Regions from separate parts of the Homo sapiens genome. Here region 1 is linked to region 2. The links come from fine-mapping of genetic effects on gene expression. Tissue or cell type: testis. Region 2 holds a variant in brackets; the other region holds the start of a gene. All regions are shown on one strand. Distances are between the middles of the regions.

Region 1 (8,103 bases), 960 kb after region 2:
AAACTCCATCTCAAAAAAACAAAAAACAAACAAACAAAAACCAAAAAACTTGAACATCAGGCTGGCACGGTGGCTCACACCTGTAATCCCAGCACTTTGGGAGGCCAAGGTGGGCAGATCACCTGAGGTTGGTTTCATGTGCGTCCGTGTGAAGAGACCACCAAACAGGCTTTGTGTGAGCAACATGGCTGTTTATTTCACCTGGGTGCAGGCGGGCTGAGTCCGAAAAGAGAGTCAGCGTAGGGAGATAAGGGTGGGGCTGTTTTATAGGATTTGGGAAGGTAATGGAAAATTACAGCCAAAGGGGGTCGTTCTCTGGTGGGCAGGGGTGGATCTCACAAAGTACATTCTCAAGGGTGGGGAGAATTACAAAGAACCTTCTTAAGGGTGGGGGAGATTACAAAGTACATTGATCCATTGATCAGTTAGGGTGGGGCAGGAACAAATCACAATGGTGGAATGTCATCAGTTAAGGCTGTTTTTACTTCTTTTGTGGATCTTCAGTTACTTTAGGCCATCTGGATGTATACGTGCAAGTCACAGGGGATGCGATGGCCTGGCCTGGGCTCAGAGGCCTGACAGTCGGGAGTTCGAGACCAGCCTGAGCAATGTGGAGAAATCCCGTCTCTACTAAAAATACAAAATTAGCCAGGCATGGTGGCGCTTGCCTGTAATCCCAGCTACTCAAGAGGCTGAGGCAGGAGAATCGCTTGAACCTGGGAGGCAGAGTTTGCAGTGAGCTGAGATCACGCCATTGCACTCCAACCTGGGCAACAAGAGCAAAACTCCATCTCAAAAAACAAAACTCGAACATCCCTAAGAGTATTTCTGCTCCCTAGAACCTATGCCAACACCACCCTCAGGGTCCACATGATGAGTCTTCCCATACATATTATTCTCATGTAATATAACCATTTCATAAAGAAGGGACCGTCCCCCATTTTACAGATGAGGAATCAGAGGCACGGAAGGATAAAGTGACCCCATCCAGGTGGTATTCCCAAGCCTAGTGTTCATCCCACTGTACTGTAGCTAATGTCTCTGAGGGCAGGTAACTTGAAACAAGGTCTGTGTGGAAAGCAAACTCCTTGCAGAGAATTTCAACGCAATCTAAGTGAATGCAGAAAACCCTTGAATTCTGTTCTTCCCTGGGCGATTGTGAATGCTGTCCGAGAGTGTGTCTTTCCAGGCAGGGAGCCAGTGTGCTGGGCTCACAAGTTCTCATCGCTTCCCTTTTTGATACCGTCTCATTACTTTTAATTGCATCTGAGTCTTTCTAGCATCTTGTATTTTGCTTCCTAATCCAGGGCATTTCTCTGCCTCCCACTGGTCCAGCACAGCACTTCTCTCTCTCAGAGCTCTCCAGAGAGGTGCCCCCAGAAAATGGAGCTGGTCTTCTGTAATGAATTCATCTCTGTAATGAATAGTATAATATCCAAGTCCCAGCATATTTACATAGCAATCTTCACACAAAAGCAACATTACAAAGGGAAGATTTTTTTTTTTTAAAGAATGCCATCTCAAAGCTCCATTTCCTATAGTACGAAGAACACTATTGGAATTACCCTGACAGGAAAACAAAAACAACTTCCAGGGATGCTGGGTGAGAGACAATAGTTAAACCAGACCCATTAATGTTTAAAATCAATGGAGCATAAAACTGCTTTTCTCTACTTACAGCCAGGCATCATCATACAGAAAGGAGGAAAACATTACCATTTTAACTCTACTGAAATCCGTAAGCCCTCCCCTAATTTTCATTCCTCTCGAAATTCTCCAGTAAGTACCATCGGAATGAAAATGAGAATCAGTCTCTCCGGGGGGAATGGCTTCCAGTCCTCATCAGTAAAGTGTGTGAACAGCCCTCGGGAGATGGAGGTGGGAGGCTGCCCACTGGGAAAGTCTCCATCACTCAAACCTGCAGAACTAGTTGCGGAGACTCACTGTGGGGCATGGGAGCCTCCGGGCTGACTTCAGTAAAGCCCTACACAATCCCAGGTCAGGGTAGACCTGAGGCAGAATTTAAGAAACCTGGCAAGTGCACAGAAGTAATACCCTCAGGGTACGTTTCACCTAGTGGGCTGCATGGGGGGGATCTTCAACATTATTATGTTAAATGCTCCCCAGGGGGGACTCGCTGGAATTGAGCCAGACCTCTGTTAGTAAACCGCTGGACCTAATCCTACATTTGTGTAATGCCTGACAACACCCGTTCCCATTATCTTATTTGATCCTGAAAACAATCCTCAGAGGGAGGCCAGGCAGGGATTATTTCTCCTATTTACAAGTGAAAACACTTGTAAACTGATTTGCCTGGAGTCCCACACCCAGGATGTGGCAGGAATGAGACTTGGATCTAGGTCTTTGTACAACCTGTTCTGGGTTCTTTTGACTTCACACAACAGACTGATCAAAACATTCCCAGCCCCACCCACTCCTCACAACCACCAGCTTAACCAGCAACTGGAAACTCACCAGACAGCTTGTGTTTATGCTACCCTCACACCTCTGTCCTAGTGAAGAAACACACCTTTGGCTGGCAAGCTCTCCAGGAAAAAATTAATTTCATGTCATCTCCTTGAAACAAAGACCAACATTAATCCCAGATGGATTTGAAAAAAAAATCAAGGCATTTGAAAAATCTAAAGAAAATAGAATGGAATATTTAATAACTTTCTGGCAGCAAGGAGACTCCAAATTTAGCATCGTGTTAGAAATTTCAAAGAGATTTTAAAATTTGCCTACATGAAAATTTGGTTTTAGTGGGGGAAAAAATGACTGTACAGAGCCAACAAAAGCCTGGAGACGTATTTGCGGCAAAATATGAAAAGGGTTAACATTTGGTATGTAAAGGAGTCATGCAAATACGTAAGAAACACTCCCTAGGAAAATCTTATTAGGAAATAGACAATTCATAAGAAAGGAAGTACAGTTTGTTAACAAACATTTAGAAAACTGCTCTACCTAACTGAAATCAAAGATATGCAAACTGAAGGGAGAAAATTTCCCTATATAATCCGCAAAAAAAAAAAAATTCAATAATACTCAAATACTAGTGAAGGTGTAATGATGTATGCTCAAGCATTAATGATGGTAGAGTACATTTACCTAACTCTTGGAAAGACACTTCCTGAACATTTATCAGTAAACCTTAAAATACCCAACTACTGTGACTTAAAATTCCACTCCTGGGAATATGCCCTAAGGAAAGAATCATCAATATCTTAAAGTGTCGCGCACAAAAATGTTAGTTACACACTTAACGATGGTGAAATTAGGCAAATGTTAAAAACATAGGCACTTGATGGAAACTTATGTAATCATTAAAATGTTTTCAAAGTGCATGCAATAACACGAAAAACGTTTATGATGTAAGGCAAAGTGGAAAAGTGTGTAACACTGTATGCATGTGTTTGTATACTACACTTTCATAGAACAAAGGCTAAAAAGGAAAAAAATTTAAATGTGAACCATGAGAGATTTTTTCCATCCCTTATATTTTTCTTTTTTTTTTTGAGACGGAGTCTCGCTTTGTTGCCCAGGCTGGAGTGCAGTGGCGTGATCTCGGCTCACTGCAACCTCCGCCTCCAGGGTTCAAACCATTCTCCTGCCTCAGTCTCCCGAGTAGCTGGGATTACAGGCGCCCGCCACCACGCCCGGCTAATTTTTGTATTTTTAGCAGAGATGGGGTTTCACCATGTTGGCCAGACTGGTCTGGAACTCCTGACCTCAGGTGATCCGCCCGCCTCGGCCTCCCAAAGTGTTGGGATCACAGGCATGAGCCACCCACCGCTCCTGGCCAATCCCCTATATTTCTATTTGAACCTTAAAAAAAAAAAAAGACCCTTCTTTAGCCGAGCGGCGGTGAGTCCTATTCTCATGATATGTCCGGGGGCTTGAAGACTGCGGGAGGGAAAGCCTCTGGGACCTCACCTCAGAGCGATTCTGCTCTGCTTCAAAGCGTCCCCTCTTAGGCCGGGCGCGGCGGCTGACGCCAGTAACCCCAACACTTTCGGAGGCCGAGGAGCGAGGACTCCTTGAGCCCAAGAGTTCGAGACCAGCCTGGGCAATATAGTGAGACCCCCCCCCCCCACCACCGTCTCTACAAAAAAAATTTTTTTAATTAGCCAGGCGTGGTGGCCGCGCCTGTGGTCCCAGCTGCTCCGGAGGCTTAAAGTGGGATGATTACTTAAGCCAGAGTTCGAGGCTGCAGTCAGCCGTGTTCGCGCCACTATACTTCAGCCTGGGCGACAGAGACCTTTTCTAAATAATAAATAAGTAAATAAGTAACGTGCCGCCTCTTCACTCCCAATTCCCTCCGCCTTTCCCCGCCCCGCCTCGTCGAAGCCGGACCCGCGGCGGCCCGCCCCTCCCCCACGACCAGGGCCGGGAACTGCGGGTGCGCGGGGCGGGAGTCGGGCGGGCTTAGGCGCGGCCGACACGTGGGGAGGGAGGCCGCGGCCCAGGAGGCGGGCCCGGAGTGGGTGTGGGTGTGTCCGTGCGTGGGAGAAACCAACCTCAGCCTCCTCCGAGGCGCCACGTTTCAGCACGGCTCGTTGGGCCCGGGAGGTCGGAAATCAGTCCCCACGCCCCGGACCCCCTCCTGGAGGGACAACGAACACAGGCGCGGGACGGCTTCGGTCACCGCCCGCGCCGCCCTTTGCCCCCGTGCCTGCTCGCGCGTCACCCCCGCCCCGGTGCGGTGGTAGGGCCCGGCGCGACGTCACCCATTGTTTACAAATCAACCCGAGCCGGCAGGATTCCGGCTCCAGCGGCTGCAGGCGCGTGGCTCGAGTGCCTGGCGGGCTCCGGCTTCCGCGTCCGCCCCTGCTCCGGCTTCGCCCGCAGCTCCGCGCCCGCGGGCAACCAAGCCCCCAGCGAAGCCCGCACAGCTCCGGGTGCCAGGACGGGGGGCCATGCCGTGCCGGAGGGAGGAGGAAGAGGAAGCCGGCGAGGAGGCGGAGGGGGAGGAAGAGGAGGACGACAGCTTCCTCCTGCTGCAGCAGTCGGTGACGCTGGGCAGCTCGGGCGAGGTGGACCGGCTGGTGGCCCAGATCGGCGAGACGCTGCAGCTGGACGCGGCGCAGGACAGCCCGGCCTCGCCGTGCGCGCCCCCGGGGGTGCCGCTGCGGGCCCCGGGGCCCCTGGCTGCGGCGGTGCCGGCGGACAAGGCCCGGCCCCCGGCGGTGCCGCTGCTGCTGCCGCCCGCTTCGGCTGAGACGGTGGGCCCGGCGCCCTCTGGGGCCCTGCGCTGCGCCCTAGGGGACCGCGGCCGCGTGCGCGGACGCGCTGCGCCCTACTGCGTGGCGGAGGTCGCCGCAGGCCCCAGCGCGCTGCCGGGGCCGTGCCGGCGAGGATGGCTCAGGGACGCGGTCACCTCCCGCCGCTTGCAGCAGCGCCGATGGACCCAAGCCGGGGCACGCGCCGGCGACGACGACCCGCATCGGCTCCTCCAGCAGCTCGTGCTCTCGGGAAACCTCATCAAGGAAGCCGTGCGGAGACTCCAACGAGCCGTCGCCGCGGTTGCAGCCACGGGCCCCGCAAGCGCCCCTGGGCCCGGGGGAGGCCGCAGCGGACCTGACCGCATTGCCCTGCAGCCCTCAGGCTCCTTGCTCTGACGCAGGCCTCCTGGAGGAGGAAGTGGAGGCCGCTGCGTAGACCCAACAGCGTCCAGTTCCTACTAACTCTGAGCTGAAGCCGACGTCGCCAGCCTGGGAGCGACCACTTTGGCTGCGGGGAGGCGCGTGGGGAGAGATCTCAACCAGAGAAGTTACCAGCCGCGGCGAGGCCGTCGGAGAAAACTTAAGCGTGGAGAAATGTATGCGCCAGGGTGCTTCCGTGGGGCATGAGAATTTCCCGGGCCATCCAAGCCCAAGGACCTGGGATAAACTGGGAGAACTATGGCAGCTACTTGCATCGACTTGTACCTCACTTAGCCCTTGGGGGCGTCGTGAGCTTGGATTGTTTAAGGAGGGCTCAGGGGTAGGAATCGCGATGGCTTTATAACAATACTTGAAAACTAACGACACGCATACATTTTCTTATTTTCTGGTGGAGGAGCTTAGTAAGTGGTGCTACAATTGCTGTGCAAAGAAATTCCAGAGGGGAGAAGAATGTAAAAGTTTGGTGGTGGGTGGCTTGGCATTGCCCCTTTTTCCCACCGATTCGGTGGCTGGTGAAGGTGGGAGATGTGAACTCCAATTAAGGGACTGGAGAGAGGTGAAGAATTTTGCAGGTGGGAGATTTGGATTTGAATGTGGACTTGTAAATGACTTGACCTTGCCATCTGTGTTCAAGGTCACGGTTTGCTGTGGGGTTCCTGGGAGAGCTTACTCACCCCGGAGTCTTTTCTTTCTCTTGCTCCAAGAAGAGCCCTGTTGGTGCTTTACCACCGCTTGGAGTCTCCCGAGGACACAAACAGGCAGAGAGGGACGTGTAGGGAGAGTTCTTTCCTGTTTTCTGTGCTTTCCTTTTTACAGGACTCCCGGAAGGCCACTCATGGCCATGCCAGGAGCTTTCTCAGAAACAGTCATAAACGATCTCTTGAGTCTCTTTCTTGTCCTCCCAGCTGAGCTTTCTTATTCCACCCTTTCTGGTGTCTATAGGAATGCATGAGAGACCCTGGACGTTTTTCTGCTCTCTTCTGGCCCTCCATGGAGTCATGGGCCTCGGCCTCGGCGGCTCCTCACCCTCACAATTTATTTCCTCCTCCCGTGCCAGCCCTTCTTTTGTGTCTGAAACCGGTTTTAAAATGTGACTCTCCCAGAGAAGAAGCCGCTGGCTGTATGAAACTTGACGGCGCTTTTGTAAGGTGCCACCCCCAAACTTTAAGGTAGCTAAACCAATTTTTAAAAGATTCAATGGCTTGTTCATCCTCCAGATGTAGCTATTGATGTACACTTCGCAACGGAGTGTCTGAAATTGTGGTGGTCCTGATTTATAGGATTTCATAATTAAAATGTCTGCTGAATAAATTTGGCTTTTGTTTTGGAGCACGGTTTGGCATTTTGGTGGAAGGTGGGAGAGGGGCAGAAAAGCATATGGGGATGTCCTTAATAAAGAGGGCACTTGGGCTAAACCGGGGGGGGGGGACCTGGACAAATGGTTTGGGCCAATGCTGATGGGCACAGAATCCTAGTAGAGCCACAGGACTTGAGTGCTTCTAAGTTTTTATTCCACAAGATCAGAAAATTGAGTCCAGGTTTTTAGAAGCTGCAAGATGGGCTTCCACTCCCTTTGTGGAAAGACAATGTATTCTAGAAATGCTTTCTGGGCTGGAGAGCAAAGAGGTGCTGTGGTGGAGGGAGGTGGGTTTTCATCTGGACGTTTTTGTGCAAAATGGGGAGGGCACAGGCGAAGCCAGCCTGCTTTCCCCTTTGAGACTGACCTAGTCTTGAGCTATGGCCTTGGGAGAGAAAAACAGGGTTTTACAGCAGTGTATTTGGTAGTTGTAAAATGGCTTGGTTTGAGCACTCAGGGGTTAGATTTGACCGAAGTAGCCCTCCTCCTCTCCTCATTCTCTCTCTGCCCTGTCTTCCCAGGCATAGAGCCCTTGCTGAATCCCTTCCTAGTTCCTGCCTTGCCCTTTTCTCTTTTTAATTTAATTTTATTATTTTGAGATGGTGTCTTACTCTGTAACCCAGGTTGGAGTGCAGTGGCACGATCTTGGCTCACTGCAGCCTCAACCTCCTGGGCTCAAACAGTCCTCTCACCTCAACCTCCTGAGTAGCTGGGACTACAGGCTCATACCACCATGCCAGGCTAATTTTTTATATTTTTAGTAGAGATGGGTTCTCACTGTGTTGCCCAGGCTGGTCTTGAACTCGAGCTCAAGTGATCTGCCCTCCTCGGCCTCCCAAGGTGCTGGGATTAAAGGCGTGAGCCACCACACCTGGCCCCTGCCTTGCCCCTTCCTTGCCCAGCTCTACTAACCCAGCCCCCGGGGAACCTCTCCTGCTCAGCACACTCCCGAGGCTGGGGCTGCAGAGGAAGGCTGATGCTCAGTTGCCTCAGCCCTTTCTGCTCACCAGCTGTGTCATGGTGGGCAAGTCAAGACTCTGAGTTTTTCCCTTGTGATTTGTAAAACAATAGTACTTAATAGGG
Region 2 (8,103 bases):
AGCCTGGGCAACATAGTGAGACACCATCTCTATGAAAAAATTAAACATTAGCCAGGTGTGGTGGCATGCACCTGTAGTCTCAGCTACACAGGAGGCTGAGGTAGGAGGATCGCTTGAGCCCAGAGGCTGAGGCTGCAGTGAGCAGTGATTGCACCACTGCACTTCAGCCTGGGTGACATTATTTATTATTTATTAAATAAATAATAAAATAAAGTTTGCTTTGACATGACACTTTGGAAATCATGGAACTGCAGGGGCCCCAGGTAGCTGGGGTTGGGGTGACACCCAAGCTTGTCATGGTACTGGGCACCAGCTTGTGCCCAAGTAATTCAGGGCTGAACAACCATACTCTAGAGACTGGGAACCAGAAAAGGCTAGCCTACAGGCTCACCCCTTTCAGTCTCAGCATTTCCTCCCCTCCTTCCTCCAGGGGCAGGGGGAATAGTGAGGAATTAACTCCTCGAAGCAGATGAGGATGAGACCAGACATTGTTTTTACTGGGTCAAACTCACTTGCCCTGCTAGAAACAGAAAGGGTAGGGGCTTTTCTTTTTGTCATAGAGATGCCAGTAAAGTGTGTATGTGTTGGGGCATTGGGGGAGGACACATGTACAATTTTGCACTGGCCCGTTTTCTCCAGCTCCATCCCTGTAGGAGTGTCAAGTTAGGGAAGCACCTGTCAACATAGACCAGGCAGCAGAAACATCGCCCAGTGGAGTAGCCACACTGCGTACCTCCTGGAGTCACCTCCTGGGTCTCAGCATCCATGCCAGAGGGTGGGAAATAAGACACCCAGGAGATGGGGACAGGGGAGAGGAGTCTCATGTTTGGACAGGAACTGGCCCTAAGAGAAGACCCAGCCAGGAACACTGGGTGGGCTCAAGCCTCACCTCTGTGGGTGTCCTCAGAAGCCCCTGCAGAAACATGTGACAGCCAGGCTGACTTTTGGAGTCCTGCCCAATGCTCAGGCTTGAGGTTTCTCTGAGTGAGGATCCAGCTGTGCTCTGGTTGATGTGTTTTCCCTGTGACTCTGTCACGCCCATGTCTGCATGACACCCGGCCTTTGAGCTCCAAGCATATTTTTGAAAAGGCAAAATCTGGGTCAGGCAGTCACCGTCTAAGCAAGGTTTCAGAGGACTTTCCATTCCCCAAGCCCTTCCCTTTGAACTTGGCCAAAACTTTCCTCCTGGGCTGGTATTTCTTCCTTGGAATGATAGCTCAAAGGTGAAAAATGCAGGGCAGAGCTCACCGCAAGTGGGCTGAGTTGTTTTTCAGTATGATGAGTAAATGGGGAAAAGTACTAGCAGCCGAAGCCATCAGCCCCAGCCTGCCCAGGATTGCCCAGCTCTGTACCATGGCCTTGCCAGTCACTTGTGCCATGAGCTGCCACTCTGAGGACCACTCCCTTGGGACCACACATGGTTAAAGCCACCACCTGGCCTTTTCTCCTCCTGCCTCCTGATATGACTCTGTGGTACAAGGGCCATCCACAGAGCTCCCAGCTGCAGACATGTGTTCCTGCTCAGACAGGGCCAGAAGGCACTGCCAACCTCGGTGCCATTGCTCTGGGAGCTGACCGTCCTCCAGTTCCTCTTCCTGGAATCCTCGGGTTATTCATGTCTGTGTGCCTGGGCTCCTGGCTAGGTTGGCCAGTTCAAGCTAATTTGATTCTGGAAGACTTTTCCCAGTAGTAGCAGCACGAAGTGACTGCTGCTTGATTCCTGTGGATATGTGTATGATTTGGGGGATGGAAGTGGAAGGGAGGCTTCCTTTCTCTGGAATCCCAAGGAGTGGAGCATAGCTCAAAGGAACAACCATGTGTGAGAGACACCTCTATCACCTGGAGCCATCTAGCTGCCCCCCAGCATCCAGAGGAAAAGGAGCCTCAGAGCCTCTGGGCCACTCCCAAAGGAGTCCAGAGAAAGTCTTGGATCTGGTAGCCTGCTGCCCCCCAACTGCATGGGGAGGTGGAGATGGACTGTCAGCCAGGTGGACGTCCTCCAAGCACTGAGGGAACTGCTGGTGATGGACGCACCTGCCGGAGCCAGAGCCTTAGACCAGGGTTTGTCTTGCTGGTCTGGAGGGTGGAAAGGCAGGATCCTCAGAGATTGGCCGAGCACCAACCTCCTCCACATGAAATCCCTCTTCCTGTGCTGTCAGAGCTAGATTGTTCTGGCAGAAATGGAGCTTTTCCTTTTTCATTTTTACTTTCATTTTGGTGTAGAGTTCCATGAGTTTTAACACATGGATAGATTCACATACCCACCAGCACAGTTCAGGAGTACAGGCAGTTCCGTCACCCCAACACCTCATGCTGCCTTTTCTCGTCACACTCTTCCCCAACCCATAACCTTGGTAACGACTGATCTGTCCTCCATCACCATGGTTTTGTCTTTTCCAGGATGCTTTATAAAGGAATCATCGAGTCCGTAGCCTTTGAGACACGCTTCTTCTATTCCGTGATGCCTTTGAGATGCACCATGTCATTGCCTGTATCAGTAGTTTGTTCCTTGTGTTGCTAAGTGGCATTCCACTGCATGGGCGCGCCGTGGTTCATCTATTCCCCTGATGAAAGACATGTGTACTGTTTCAAGGTGGGTTTTTGTTTTTGTTTTTGGCCTTTGTGAATAGAGCTGCTATAAACATTCATGTACAGGTTTTTTTGTGAACAAAAGTTTTTTATTTCTTCAGGGCAAATACCTAGGCGTGAGCTGTATCCTATGGTAAGTGTGTGTTTAGCTTCATAAGAAATTGCCAAATTCTTTTCCAGAGTGGTTTTACAATTTTGCATTCTCATCAGCAATGGATATCCTTTCTTTTTTACTTTTATTTGAAAACAAAGTCATCTTCCCGCCAAGGTGAAGGGTAGGGACATAAGGAACTGAAATAAAAGCTAAGTCCAGAAATGAAATACAGAGTGATTGTGAGCCATTTGTGGCTTTCCCAAAATACCAGGTGTTCTTAAGGCTGAAAGCACCTCAAGTTGAAGCTCCAGGTGGACACAGTGGGATGTGAACTTTGGGAGAAGAGATAGGGCAGGTCCCTGGAGAACTGGGTCTTAGGGCTCTGCTGTGTGCCTGAGGGCAGGTTACTGTGCTGCTCCAAACCTCAAGTGTTTACTGGGATCAACTCTTGCAGGTTTGATAAGGTCACAATTTGTGGTGTTTCAATTGTTACGTGATCCAGGCTTTGTGGTGAACATCAGAAGAAGCTCTAAATAAAGGTTTAGGATGCACACAGCCTGCTTCCATGCCATGTGGAAGCAAGAACTCCTCCAGAAATATTGAGGCAAAGATACTTTGTAAACATGCAAAAATCCAAAAATGCTTTGCTTAACAACAGAGAAGTTTCCAGTAGTGTGGGAACTGTTCTCAGATGTGTGGGGCCAGGAACAGATCTGATGCAGAGGATACAGTTCCATTCTGGAGAAAGTGGCTGAATACGTTTGTGGTTGTGTCTCTGAACTTTCTCTCTGGACCATTTCTATGCCTTCTGCCCCTCCTCGTCTCCCTGGGATCTTCAGGATCCCAACTTCCACTCCGCAACTAAACAACGAATTCTCCAGAGCATAAGGTTGAGAGCTTGGGCTGTGAATCAGGAAGACCTGGTTTAAAGCTGAGCCACCTTCTCGCTGGGGTAACGACGGATCAATTACTCAACCTCACTGGACCTCACATCTCCCATTTGTAAATGGGGGTAATAAGAATGCCTCCGTCAGCAGCCTATTCTGAGGACTAAATGAGGCAATGCCTGCACAGCCTTTACTGTAGGTCTGGTACACGGTATGTTTGCAGGAAAAATTAGTTATGTTTGTATGTTGTTGGGTTATTTTTTTTTCTCTTTTTTAAAAAATTTTTTTTCTCTTTTGAAAAAATCATCAAAGAAGAACATTGGCTCTCAGATCTCTAAGATCTCTCCCAGCTCTTATGTTACACGTAACAGAGGGGGGCCTACTTCATGCATTCTGGAAATTGAAAGCTATGCCACATCAGTTTTCTGGAAACAAGGGCTACCAGGAAAGAAGGGTCAGTTCGGGCCCCATTTTCGCCACTGAACCCAA[A/G]CTGACCTCTGCATCTGTTTTGCTGATTGTTGGAGACCGGGTTCTAGAGCTCCCCATCACTGATAGAAGAATCACTCCTGAAAGGTGAAAGGTCCGGGGCCAGGGCTTCCGAAAGGCCTGAACAACAGAGGAAGGGAGGCTCTGTGTTCCTCTCCCACCTGCACAGATCAGTCAGTCACTCTGTTCTACAGGGACTCTCTGTAACTCATGAGAGGGACTCTGGAGGGAGACCCCTCTGTAACTCTCTGTAACTCTTTGAGGGACTCTGAAAACTCATGTATGAAACTGCAGAAGTCTGCTTCTAGACTTTGCCTTGGCCATGTGAGGTAAAGGGCCCTTCAACCCCTGCCCCCTACCTTGTAAATGTGCAAATGGACTCACATTTGAACCTCAACAGGTTCCTGAAAATCGAATAATAAAATAGATTGCTGTAAAGCAGCCCATATTTTCCCATAGCCACAGGGTTGTAATTGGTGATTACTAGCCTGATCAGTGGTAACTCGACAGCAAATTTATCACTGATGTGACCAACAATGTCATAAAGTGAATACTGTGTGTCTCTATAACCACTGAAAATACTCAAGTTATGCTCCAGGTCCTATAAAATGGGCGTAAATACACTGAACACTTCACTGAGGGAAGGGAACCAATGACCTATATGCAATATATGGGCAGCTATAAAAAATACAACCAGGCCATAAATTTGAATGAAAACCAATATTCTAGCCTTAATGGACATGAATTAAACATTTAATTAACACCAGTTTGCCCTACTTGCTTAGAATTCCAAATGAATTTGGAATGGATCATTTGGGCAGGTTGGGTGTCTTTTAAGAATGGCCCAGGGAAGCTTAAGTTGTTACCTTTGTCCCTCAATAAATGAAGATCCCGAGGGGAGCAGTGCCACCAGCTCACGGCATGGAGCGGTGAAAAAGGATGGTGTTCACCCCGCTGAACCACACGTTCTGAAGGCGGGGCTGCCCCACAGAGCACACACCAGCTTCTCCTGCCTCAGCTTAGATGCAGCTGAAGGGGAAGTCGCCCTGCCCAGGTAGCCAGCAGGGCTGGTGGCCTGCTGTCTGGCTGCTAAGCCCAGGGAGGGAGGCAGTTTTGTGGATTCACAGGAGTGCTCCGAGGACCCACCGTTGTCAGGATCCCGGAAAGCTGGCTGAAATGCAGATCCCTCACTCTGACATCCTGCGTCAGTACGGCTGAGAATTCTGCATTTAAGCGACCCCTTGATGCTCATTCTGGTGCACACTGGGGCTTGAGACTCCCTGCAATGGGAGGTATTCTCATCTCAGCCCCCTCCTGGTCATGCATAGTCAGCCACCACTGTTCCCTCAACTACACAACAAAATTGAGTATCGTGGCCTCCTCAAACCCATTTCATAACTATGCAGGCATTCCTCGTATGTGCAGACTGGTTCTGGGCCCCCCATGGATACCAAAATCCACAGGTGCTCAAGCCCCTAATGTAAAATAGTATAGTATTTTCATATAACCTATGCACATCCTCCCATTTACTTTAAATCATGGGTGTCCAATCTTTTGGTTTCTCTGGGCCACATTGGAAGAATTGCCTTGGGCCACACATAAAATACACTAACACTAATGATAGCTGATGAGCTGAAAGAAAAAAAATCTGCAAAAGATTCTCATAATGTTTTAAGAAAGCGTATGAATTTATGTTGGGCCACATTCAAAGCTGTCCTGGGCCACATGAAGCCTGTGGGCCGCGGGTGGGACAAGCTTATTTTAAATCATCTCTAAATTACTTATAATTCCTAATGCAAAGTAAATGCTATGTAAATAGTTGTCATACTGTATTTTTATATATATTATTTCTTATTGTATTATTTTTTATCATTTTTTCCCAAATATTTTTGATCTGCCCTTGTTTGAATCTGAGGATACAGAACCCGCAGACACAGAAAGCTGACTATATTTCTAATTTTTAAAAGTCTTAATTATACAGGTAATAAAGGAATGCATATTAGTTGTTTTAAAAGAAAAGCAGAACACACAGCAAAACTTAAACACACAAAGTGAATGTCCTCCTTTCCCATCTCACTTCCTTCCTTGGAGGAAACCCCTGTCAATCGTTGGTTGCACATCTTTCCATACTTTTTAAAAATGCAATTGCAGGCCGGGCGCGGTGGCTCACGCCTGTAATCCCAGCACTTTGGGAGGCTGAGGTGGGCAGATCATCTGAGGTCAGGCGTTCGAGATCAGCCTGGGCAACATGGCAAAATCCCATCTCTACTAAAATTACAAAAATCAGCCGGGCGTGGGGGTGGGAGTCTGTAATCCCAGCTACTCGGGAGGCTAAGGCAAGAGAATCATTTGAACCTGGGAGGTGGAAGTTGCAGTGAGCCGAGATCGTGCTACTGCACTCCAGCCTGGGCAACAAAAGCAAAAACTCCGTCTCAAAAACAAACAAACAAACACATTTGCATACTCATAATTTGAGCTTCTCCTTCTTTACACAAATGGCATCCTTCTACTCACATTGGTGAGGAACTTGCTTTTTTCACTTTATGTCTGGAAACCATTCCATGTCTTTCTTATACTTTTTTCTATTTATTTTTTATTTTTAACTTTTATTTTAGGTTCAAGAGTACATGTGCCTGTTTGTTATATAGGTAAATTGCATGTCATGGGGGTTTGGTGTACAGATTACTTGGCTACTCAGGTAATAAGCATAGAACCCACAGGTAGTTTTTCAATCCTCACCCTCCTCCTTCCACCCTCAAGTTGGCCCCAGTGTTTGTCGTTCCCTTCTTTGTGTCCATAGGCACTTGATGTTTAGCTCCCACTTATAAGTGAGAACATGCAGTATTTAGTTTTCTGTTCCAGTGATAGTTCACTTAGGATAATGTCTTCCAGCTCCATCCATGTTGATGCAAAGGACATGATCTCGTTCTTTTTCACGTCCATGTAGATTCCATATATGTACCACATTTTCTTTATCCAGTCTACCACTTATGGGCATTTAGGTTGATTCTGTGACTTTGCTATTGTGAGTAGTGCTTTGGTGAACATACACGTGCATGTGTCTTTATAGCAGAACAATTTATATTCCTTTGGGTATACACCCAATAATGGGATTGCTTTTCTCATCCTTTTTCTCTGTTGCTCCATGTTCCATACCAGGGTTATACCATGGGTTATTTGATCACTCCTTTACTGAGGTAAGTCTAAATTTCCTTTTTTCCTGGTAATGAACCATGTTTCTTTGCCCAGGTCCTTGGGTTCATTCAGAATTTATCAAGCACTTCCCAGGCCCAGGCATAGGACTAGGTGCTGAGAGGAGGCAGACAGCACTGGGATTGATCACGGGAGGGCAGGCAGCTCTGTTCACCACCCATACTTCAATAAAAGCCTTTAAACCATTACCAGGCCATTCGCTCAAACATGACCACCTCTACGAACTTGCCTACACCTCAGTGGAGGGTCCTTATCGCTTCATACCTGGCGTGATGGTTAATTTTAAGCGTCAGCTTGACTGAATGAAGGACTCTATAGAGAGCTGGTAAGGCATCACTTCCCAGTGTGTCTGTGAGGTTGCTTGGAGGGGAGACTGGCATGGGAGTGGGTGGACTGGGTGGGGAAGGTCTGCCCTCAGTGTAAGTGGGCACCATCTAATCAGCTGGGGGCCTGAATAAAACGAAAAAGGGCAGAGGAAAGGTGATCGCCTCTCTTTCTCCTAGACCTGGGACACTCTTCTTCTCCTGTCCTTGGACATCAGAAATTCAGGCTGTCAGGCCTTGGGACTCAGAACTTATGCCAGCAGCCCCCAAGCTTCTTAGGTCATCAGCCTCAGACTGAGAATTACACCATCAGCTTCCTTGGCTCTGAGACTGAGCCACACTACAGCATCCCAGGGTCTCCAGCTTGCAGATAGTCTGCTGTGGCACTTCTCAGCCTCCAAACTGCGTGAGCCAGTTCCACTAAGAAATCCCCTCTATATATGAGTATGTGTGTGCGTGTGTGTTTGTATGTGTGTGGAGAGAGAGAGAGAGAGAGAGAGAGAGAGAGAGG

What was found. PIP is the estimated chance that this variant, and not a neighbour inherited with it, causes the effect.
Region 1: it holds the start of FRAT2, and the variant in region 2 is fine-mapped to the expression of FRAT2 in testis (GTEx, PIP 0.97).

What each region holds. Positions count from the first base shown.
Region 1 is chr10:97,331,386-97,339,488 of GRCh38, reverse strand. FRAT2 (FRAT regulator of Wnt signaling pathway 2) reads left to right here and starts at 4,760. Exons shown (of 1, transcript NM_012083.3): 1 at 4,760-6,992. The coding sequence starts at 4,917. The coding sequence ends at 5,618. It overlaps LOC105378448 (a long non-coding RNA gene), which reads right to left and starts at 4,643. Exons shown (of 2, transcript NR_188201.1): 1 at 4,518-4,643. RefSeq lists enhancers at 2,086-2,604, 5,142-6,049 and silencers at 4,192-4,541, 4,672-4,821, 4,912-5,061, 5,402-5,531, 5,542-5,591.
Region 2 is chr10:98,287,110-98,295,212 of GRCh38, reverse strand. No RefSeq gene overlaps it. Among named protein-coding and RNA genes, the nearest start is that of LOXL4, 23 kb to the right of the region's middle. The variant A/G (reference allele first, on the strand shown) is at 4,060.